Regions from separate parts of the Homo sapiens genome. Here regions 2 and 3 are each linked to region 1. Evidence: fine-mapped expression QTL. A gene starts in region 1. Each other region holds a variant in brackets. All regions are shown on one strand. Distances are from middle to middle.

Region 1 (2,762 bases):
CTCAAAAATATTTGCGGAGTGCACTTTTTTTTTTTTTTTTTAAACCATAGATGGAGTTTCTACATACACTGCAGTCGTCGTGGCTGGGCAATTTATTCTTTTCATATGATCTCTGTACCTATTTCATACTTTATTGTAGGTTTATGAAATATTAACATAGGGTGATAATTACGAGGGCCTTTTTTGCTTATCTTAAATTTTTAAAAAAAATTTTTTTAAAGGAAGGCAGAGACTTGAGCATCTTTATGGGCTGAGGAGGCAGAGTCATTGGAAAAGGGGAGGTTGCAGATACGGTGCAAGCTCCCAGACAGGAGAGGGTGAATTGGGGGCCAAAAGGATTGAGCTGGGGAAGAAGAGGCCCCTTCCTCAGAGAGATGAGGGAGAAAGGCAGACCAGGGCAGATGTGGATGTAGGTAAATGTTGTGGTGTGTGGGGAATTAGCTTGTTAAGGGTCACGCCCAGATACCTTGGGATTTTTCACGTGGGTATAAAATATGATTCTCTGATGAGAATGATGGTCAAGGTAATGTGGGGGTCGTGGTGGTGGTCTGACGCAGCAGTAATAAGGAATGGGAGAAGCTGACTACAGACTCCCAGAAAGATTGCTGAAGGGCCCAGCTGAGGATGGTGACTGGGATTTGCACTGGACTCAACCTGCAGGTTTCGATGGTGCTTTCCAACTCCAGGAAAACTGGGCTGGGATTTGACAAAACTCTTGAGGAAAAGGACTCACAGAATTTAAAACTGCATTTCCCTTTAGGTTTCGTCTGCTTTCCATCCTCCCCTACCAAGCCCCACAACTGCGGCGAGCATGTTTTCTGCAGTTAACTGCACTGCGCTCTCAGCAGGACAGAAATGACGAATAACTCTAGCCAAGCTGAACAAGATAGGGCTTGGGCTTGGTAACTTTATTTGCATCAGCATTTGCAACACAACACCTAAATGAAAAAATTAACTATAAAGCCGACATCACTTACTCTGGGTCAGGGAACTGTGCCATTCGCTTTAAGTGCATTTACTTAATCTCAAAAAAGTATTAAGAAGTGAGTCCTTTTATTAATCCGACTTTACACACCAGAGGTCTAAGGCCTAAATAAATGAGCAATTTGCTTAAGATCATATGGCTGGTTATTGGTGGAGTCATGCAAGTCTGGAAACAGAGTCATCGCTAACTCCGGTTCAGTGCTACACGAGTGAACTGTCTACAACAAAGCAATAACATATTATGAGTGCCCACAGTATCGAACACATACGGTAACCGCAGTCCAGCCAGCACCCCTGCAGTGCCCAGAGCACCAAGCACCCATCCGTTGACCCCGCATGCGTGACGCTCACGCGCGCAGTCCCCCTGGCTTCTTCCAGGAAGGCTGAAGCGGCCTAATCTCGGCCAAAAGATCAGGACGACTCGATCTGGGCTGGACTCCTTCTGCCTGAGCATCTGATCCGAGCGTCGGCCGGGCTGGGAGGAGCCGGCCCCCGGGAAAGATTTCGGACTGGGGGACAGGAAAACAGAGGGCGGAGTCTTGGGGGGGGGAAGCGAGAAGCCGCATCAACCATGTAAGCAGCTTCGCTTCCTGCCGCAACCGTCCGCGGCCTGAGGAGCCCACCGCCGCTCTCGGGGGCCGACTTCCGGGGGCTGAGCCGTTGAAGCGGAGGCTGGGGCGGGGGGCAGCCGGCGCGGCCGGGGCAGGAGGCGCAGGTAAGGGAGGGGGCCTGGAGCTTGGCCGGCTGGGGCTCAGCATGGGAAGGAGGCCGGTATGGGGAGCTCCAGGGCCAGAGCTGAGGTGAAAGTGAGAACCAGGGCTCCGCAGTCGGGGGCTAGGGCCTGGCTGCCGGCTGAGCAAGGAAGGGCAGAGAATCTGGCTTTAGAATTAGCTTGTCCTCCCTATTCCCCGGCTGCCTTGTCTGGCGAGTGGGGACGGAAGCCGGGTGGGGCCCTTGAGATTTCCTTGGAAACATTTGAAGTTCCTTTGCCTCTCTCTCGACCCTTACGCCTGAACTTAATTAGGAGGGGAAGAGTACAGTTACTTTTCCCTCTGAGTGCATGAGTTCTGAGTTTGTCAGAGGCGCATCCGTAGGCTGGAAAAGAAAGTTCATGAGCTGCAGAAACGATACCAACCGTGGGGGTTCAAATAAGTGTTTGTCTTTTTAAATGCTTGCCTCTGCTATTTGAGACGATTCCATTTCAACTTAGGTTTTGGAGTTTCTTGAGGAGGAGCATTATTTCCCAATTAGTGTTTACCCTTTGCTTAGAATGTTCCCAACAAAAGGATGAGAATGGAATGTGTTGGAAACTTTTAGGACTTAGGGGTTTTCTGCCCAATCAGAGGTTATTCCTAAGACAGTCAAGAAATATAAGAAGTGCTAGAATTCTGTATAAAGCAAGTTATTCGTGTGTATCTGATGTGTATACATGATTCATTATCTACTATTGACGCAGTGCATCCTGTGTTGTAAAATATGTCCAGTGTTGACAATAGAGGTAGTCGCTTGGTATAATGTACTTATTTCTGATTTATTTGAGCCCCTTTTTTGGCACTCCAAAACTCCCACTCTGTCAGTTTTCTTACAAAAAATGTTCTTTCTTTTGTGTTTGTGACAAAGATTGTGTAGGTTAAATCTCTTCTGTGGAGCAAGGCTAATTTCCTGTGTTCTCCCTTTTTCTGCTTTCTGGATCCTGCTCTGGTTTTCCTTTAAGCGTGTTGGTCAAAAATTGAACAAGAAATCTTTGTTGATAGAAGCTAACATTTCCAATATTCAGC
Region 2 (2,762 bases), 290 kb after region 1:
TTTAGATTCAGGGGGTATCTGTGCTGACTTGTTACCTGAGTATATTGCATGATGCTGAAGTTTGGGTTATGATTTATCCCATCACCCAGATACTGAGCATAGTACTCAAATAGTTAGCTTTTCAACCCTTGTTTTCCTTCTTTCCTCCCCCCATAGTAGTCCTCAGTTTCTATTGTTTTCATCTTTGTGTCCACAAGCACCCAATGTTTAGCTCCCACTTATAAGTGAGAACATGTGGTATTTGGTTTTCTGTTTGTGTTAATTCACTTAGGATGACAGCCTCCAGCTGCATCTCTGTTGGAGAGTCAAATTACCTACAGTACCATCTAAATACTTGGAATCTGTCATTCCTGGAGCTGTGTTGACTCCCTTTTTTATTCATTTTGTAATTCGGAACATTTTCTTTTATTTTTAAGGGAGTTTGGGTTAGCTTTCTATCAATCGTAAACAAAGGAAACCAGTCGAAAGTAGTCACCAAATCAGAGTTTCTTGTGTAGATTATATTGATTATCTATTACTTACATTACAAATGAACAATAAATTTCAGGCAGCATTTTGCTTACATATCTGCAGGTTGACAGGGACCATCTGATCTAAGCTAACTGGCTGGCAGCTCTGATGATTTGGCTGGGCTTTATCACCCACTGGGGTTGGGGGTGGAGGAGATGTGGCTGATTAAGGTTGGGTTTGGCTGGACTAACTTGGCTCTGCTCCAGTGTCCCATTCTTCTCCTGAGGCCTGCTTGCTAAACCAGGCATGTTGTTCTTATGATAATATAACTGCCCAATGGGTTCATCTTGCCTGCTTCCTGGATAGAGCTGATTTATCAAGACAGGATAATTGCAATAGAGAAAGAGTTTAATTCACACAGCTGGCTGAACGGGGGACTGGAGTTTATTACTCAAATCAATCTCTCTGGAAATTAAGAGGCCAGGGTTTTTCAGGGATAGTTTGGCAAGCAAAGAAATGGGTGTTGCTGATGTTAGGGAATGCAATCACAGGGGCGTGGAGAACGGTCCTTGTGAACTGAGTCCACTTCTGGATGGGGGCCACAGAACTAGTTGAGTCAAGTCTTGGGCCTGAATGGGGCTAGTCAGTCATCAGAAATGCAAAAACTTGAAAAGACATTTCAAAAGGCCAATCTTGGGTTCTACAATAGTGATGTTATCTGCAGGAGTAATTGGGAGTAAGTTGCGAATCTTGTGACATCTGGGGTAATGCCTGGTAATCATTTGCGTCTACATCTTAGCAGAATTCCGGCTCCTCTCATTCTCCTAAACTGGTGATCTTTCATTAGTTTTACAAAGGTGGTTTAATTTTGGGGTAGAGCTGTTATCATTTAAACTATAAATTAAATTTCTCTTACAGTTAGCTTGGCCCAAGCCCAGGAATGACCAAGGGCAGTTTGGAGTTTAAAGGCAAGATGAAGATTGGTTAGATCAGATCTCTTTCAC[T/A]GTCATAATTTTCCCACTGTTATAATTTTTTGCAAAGGCAGTTTCAGTAATAGCAGAGGTGCCAGCGTGCAGACTTGATCACACAAGTGCTTTTCAAGCCTGTGCCTCTGCCGCATCTGGTAACATCCTATGAGCCAAAGCAGGCCAGGTCATGTGGCTCAAAAGAAATCAGGGAGTGGGGGAGTATGCCCCATTTACAGTGGAAAGGTGCCGCATACTTACATGGCAAAGGTGTGGAGGAAGAGGAGAACCGAAATATTTATCTAATCTAGCGCTAAACAATGAGACTAGGAAATGTGACTTTTTAATCGTCACCCCAGGTGATTCTAGGCACGTTAAAGTTTGGGAAACACAGCTTAGAGCTGTAGTCCTCAATGCTAGCTAAATCATCTGGGGCTTAAAACATTCTGTTGCTTATATCCCAATCTCCACCTCTCTCAAAGATATTTTGATTAATAGGACCTGGGAATTAGTATTTTAAAGAAAATGGTCCTAGTTAAGAACTACTCTCCTAGAAAAATTTGAGTTCCAGTGGAAATCACTGTTATGCTTCTTATTTGCTGATATTTTTCTTTCTTTCTTTCTTTCTTTCTTTTTTTTTTTTTTTTTTTTGAGACGGAGTCTCGCTCTGTCGCCCAGGCTGGAGAGCAGTGGCGCAATCTCGGCTCACTGCAAGCTCCGCCTCCCGGGTTTAAGCCGTTCTCCTGCCTCAGCCTCCGGAGTAGCTGGGACTACAGGCGCCCGCCACCTCGCCCGGCTAATTTTTGTATTTTTAGTAGAGAAAGGGTTTCACCGTGTTAGCCAGGATGGTCTCCATCTCCTGACCTCGTGCTCCGCCCGCCTCGGCCTCTCAAAGTGCTGGGATTACAGGCGTGAGCCACTGCGCCCAAACCGATATTTTTTATGGAGATGAAATCAGAGGAAAGGCTGAATGGAAAACCAAACCTTATAAAAGCAGTACTTAAAGACTAGTCTACACTTTGGGAGGCCAAGGCAGGGGGATCACCTGAGGTCGGGAGTTTGAGGCCAGCCTGGCCAACATGGAGAAACGCCGTCTCTACTAAAAATGCAAAATTAGCCGGGCGTGGTGGCGCGTGCCTGTAACCCCAGCTATTCAGGAGGCTGAGGCAGGAGAATCGCTTGAACCCGGGAGGCGGAGTTGCGGTGAGCTGAGATCGCGCCATTGCACTCCAGCCTGGGCAACAAGAGCAAAAACTCTGCCTCTAAAACAAAACAAACAAACAAAAAAGACTAGTCCATAAACCAGTCTTTATACAGTATCTCCTCTGTGCTGGGTGTTGTGCTTGG
Region 3 (2,762 bases), 99 kb after region 1:
GTTGAATTGTAGGAATTCTTTATATATTATGGATGCTAACATCTTATCAAATATGATTTGCAAAACATTTTCCCTCATTCTGTAGGTTGCCTTTTCACTATTGTGTCCTTCAATGAACAAAAGTTTTTATGTTTGATGCAGTCCCATTTGTCCATTTTTTTTGGTTGCCTGTGATTTTGGTGTCATATCCAAGAATGTGGAATGTGTCATATCCACATTCAATGTCCTGACGATTTTTTTCTATGTTTTCTTCCAGAAGTTTTATTGCTTTGGGTCTTTGGTTTAAGTCTTTAGTCCATTTTGAGTTAATTTTTGTATGTGGTGTAAGAAACAGGTCCAACTGCATTGTTTTGCATGTAAATATCCAGTTTTCCCAGCATCATTTGTTGACCAGACTGTCCTTTTCCCATTTAGTGCTGTTGGAGCTCTTCTTGGAGGTCAGTTGGCCATGTGTACACAAGTTTATTTCTGGGCTCTTTATTCTGTTCTATTGATTTGTATATCTGTCTTTATTCCAGTACCACACTGTTTTATTCTTCTTTTTCAAAATTGTTTGACTCTTAGGGCCCTTTGAGATTCCATATCAATTTTAGGATGAATTCTTCTATTTCTGCAACAAATGCTATTGGAATTTTGATAAGGATTGAATTGAATCTGTAGACTGTTTTGAGTGATATTAACATCTTAATAATATTAAGTCTAATCCATGAATGTGAGATGTTTCTATTTATTTATCTCTTCTTTGATTTCTTTCAGTAATGTTTTATAGTTTTCATTATATAAGTTTTTACTTCCTTAGTCAATTTCTAAGAATTGTTTTCTTTTTGATGCCATTGCAACGGGAATCATTTTCTTAATTTTTTCAGATGCTTTCACTATTTGTGTATAGAAATGTAACTGATTTTTTGTATGTGTGTTGATTTTGTATCTGGTAACTTTACTGAATTTTTAAATTTGTTCTAACCTGTTTTTTTTTTTTGGTGGAATCTTTAGGATTTTCTGCATATAAGATCATGCCATCTACAAACAGAAATTTTTACTTCTTTCTTCCCAATTTGGATGCCTTTTATTGCTTTTTCTTGTCTAATTGCTTTGGACTGGAGTTCCAATACTCTGTTGAATAGAAGTGTCCAGAACAGACATTTTTGCCTTGTTCTTAATCTTAGAGGAAAAGCTTCCAGTTTTTCACTGAGTATGCCGTTAGCTGTGGACTTTTCCTAAACAACCTTTATTATGTGC[A/G]GGTAATTTCCTTCTCTTTCCACTTTTGAGTGTTTTTTTTCTTTTCTTTTCTTTTTTTGTGTGTGAAAGGATATTGAATTTTGCCAAATGCTTTTCCTGCATCAGTGGAGATGGTCATGTGGGTTTTGTCCTTTATTCTGTAAATGTGGTGTACTACATTGATTTTCATATGTTGAACCATCCTTGCATCCCAGGGATAAATCCCACTTGATCATGGTGAATGATCTTTTGAGTGTGCTGTTGAATTTATTTTGCTAGTATTTTTTTGACTACGTTCATCAGACATATTGGGTAATTATTTATTTTTTCTTGTAGTATTTTTGCCTAGCTTTGATATCACACTAATGCTGCCCCTCAAAGAATGACCTTGGAAGTATTCCTTTCTCTTCAGTTTTTGGGGGATTGATGTAAATTCTTTTTTTTTTTTTTTTGGAGACAGGGTCTCACTGTCACCCAGGCTGGAGTGCAGCGGCACAATCATAGCTCACTGCAGCCTCTAACTCCTGGGCTCAAGCAATTCTGCTTCAGCCTCCTGAGTAGCTGGGACTATAAGCATGTGCCACCATGCACAGCTAATTTATATATATATAATATAATAGATAAATATATATATATATATATATATATATATATATTTTTTTTTTTTTTTTTTTTTTTTTTTTTTTTTTTTGCAGAGACAAGGTAGGTCTTGCTATGTTGCCCAGGCTGGTCTCAGACTCCTAGGCTCAAGTGAACCTCTCACCTCAGTCTCCCAAAGTTCTGGGATTACAGGCATGAGCCACCACGTCTGGCCAGTGTTAATTCTTCAATATTTGGTAGAATTCTTCAGTGAAGTCTTCTAGTCCTGGGCTTTTCTTTGTTGGGAGGTTTTTAATTACCAACTCAATTTCCTTACTAGTTATTGGTCTATTTATATCTTCTATTTCTTCATGATTCAGTCTTGGCAGGTTTGGTGTTTCTAGAAATTTATCCATTTCTTATAGGTCATCCAGTTTGTTGGTATAGTTCATAGTCTTCTCTTATAATCCTTTCTTATCTGTAGCTCAGTACCTCCTATCTGGAGATGCAGAATTAGGAATTGAAACTATAATAGGCCCCCCTTTTATAATGGGGTGTCCTTATTTTTACCTTCTCACCTTGCAATACCCTTGTCTTGCTAGTAAAGAAAGAAGGGAAATTTGATTCAGGAGGTAATCATACTTTTCAATTTGTACAAGATCTAATAGCCATGAACTCCTATGTCATTCCTCACCATCCCATAATTCTTAGCCCAGCCATCATCCTTACCTCAATCCCTGCTGGTGCAGCCTGGTTTATTCTGTTAATGTGCTGTACTGCATTGAGGTAAGGACTTCTGCTCAGCTTTCTTCTTGATACCATTGTACCTTGATTCACACTTCCTCTTGTGAAATAAAGTTTAGCATGAAGCTGCTTTCTTACATATTTTAAGTTCGGCTTAAAGGTTTTTCTGTACATCGTGAACTGTAACAAGTGGAATATAACCAGACCGTAGCTTACACTTG

Direction of the effects. Alleles are on the strand shown, and positions count from the first base shown. SD is a standard deviation of normalised expression in the study named. Not every link is listed here.
In carriers of allele G in region 3, the expression in tibial nerve of the gene that starts at base 1,539 in region 1 tends to be lower than with A alone (small effect, 0.25 SD a copy in GTEx).

Evidence for each region. PIP is the estimated chance that this variant, and not a neighbour inherited with it, causes the effect. A credible set is the group of variants that fine-mapping cannot tell apart.
Region 2: its variant is the best candidate, but not a certain one, in a credible set for the expression of PIKFYVE in whole blood (INTERVAL, PIP 0.60).
Region 3: its variant is the best candidate, but not a certain one, in a credible set for the expression of PIKFYVE in tibial nerve (GTEx, PIP 0.57).

What each region holds. Positions count from the first base shown.
Region 1 is chr2:208,264,717-208,267,478 of GRCh38, forward strand. PIKFYVE (phosphoinositide kinase, FYVE-type zinc finger containing) reads left to right here and starts at 1,539. Exons shown (of 42, transcript NM_015040.4): 1 at 1,539-1,699. RefSeq lists an enhancer at 1,376-1,425 and a silencer at 1,556-1,825.
Region 2 is chr2:208,556,408-208,559,169 of GRCh38, forward strand. All of the region lies in intron 1 of LOC101927960 (a long non-coding RNA gene), which reads left to right. Among named protein-coding and RNA genes, the nearest start is that of PTH2R, 150 kb to the left of the region's middle. The variant T/A (reference allele first, on the strand shown) is at 1,455.
Region 3 is chr2:208,364,088-208,366,849 of GRCh38, forward strand. It overlaps a transcript of PTH2R not described here. Among named protein-coding and RNA genes, the nearest start is that of PTH2R, 41 kb to the right of the region's middle. The variant A/G (reference allele first, on the strand shown) is at 1,240.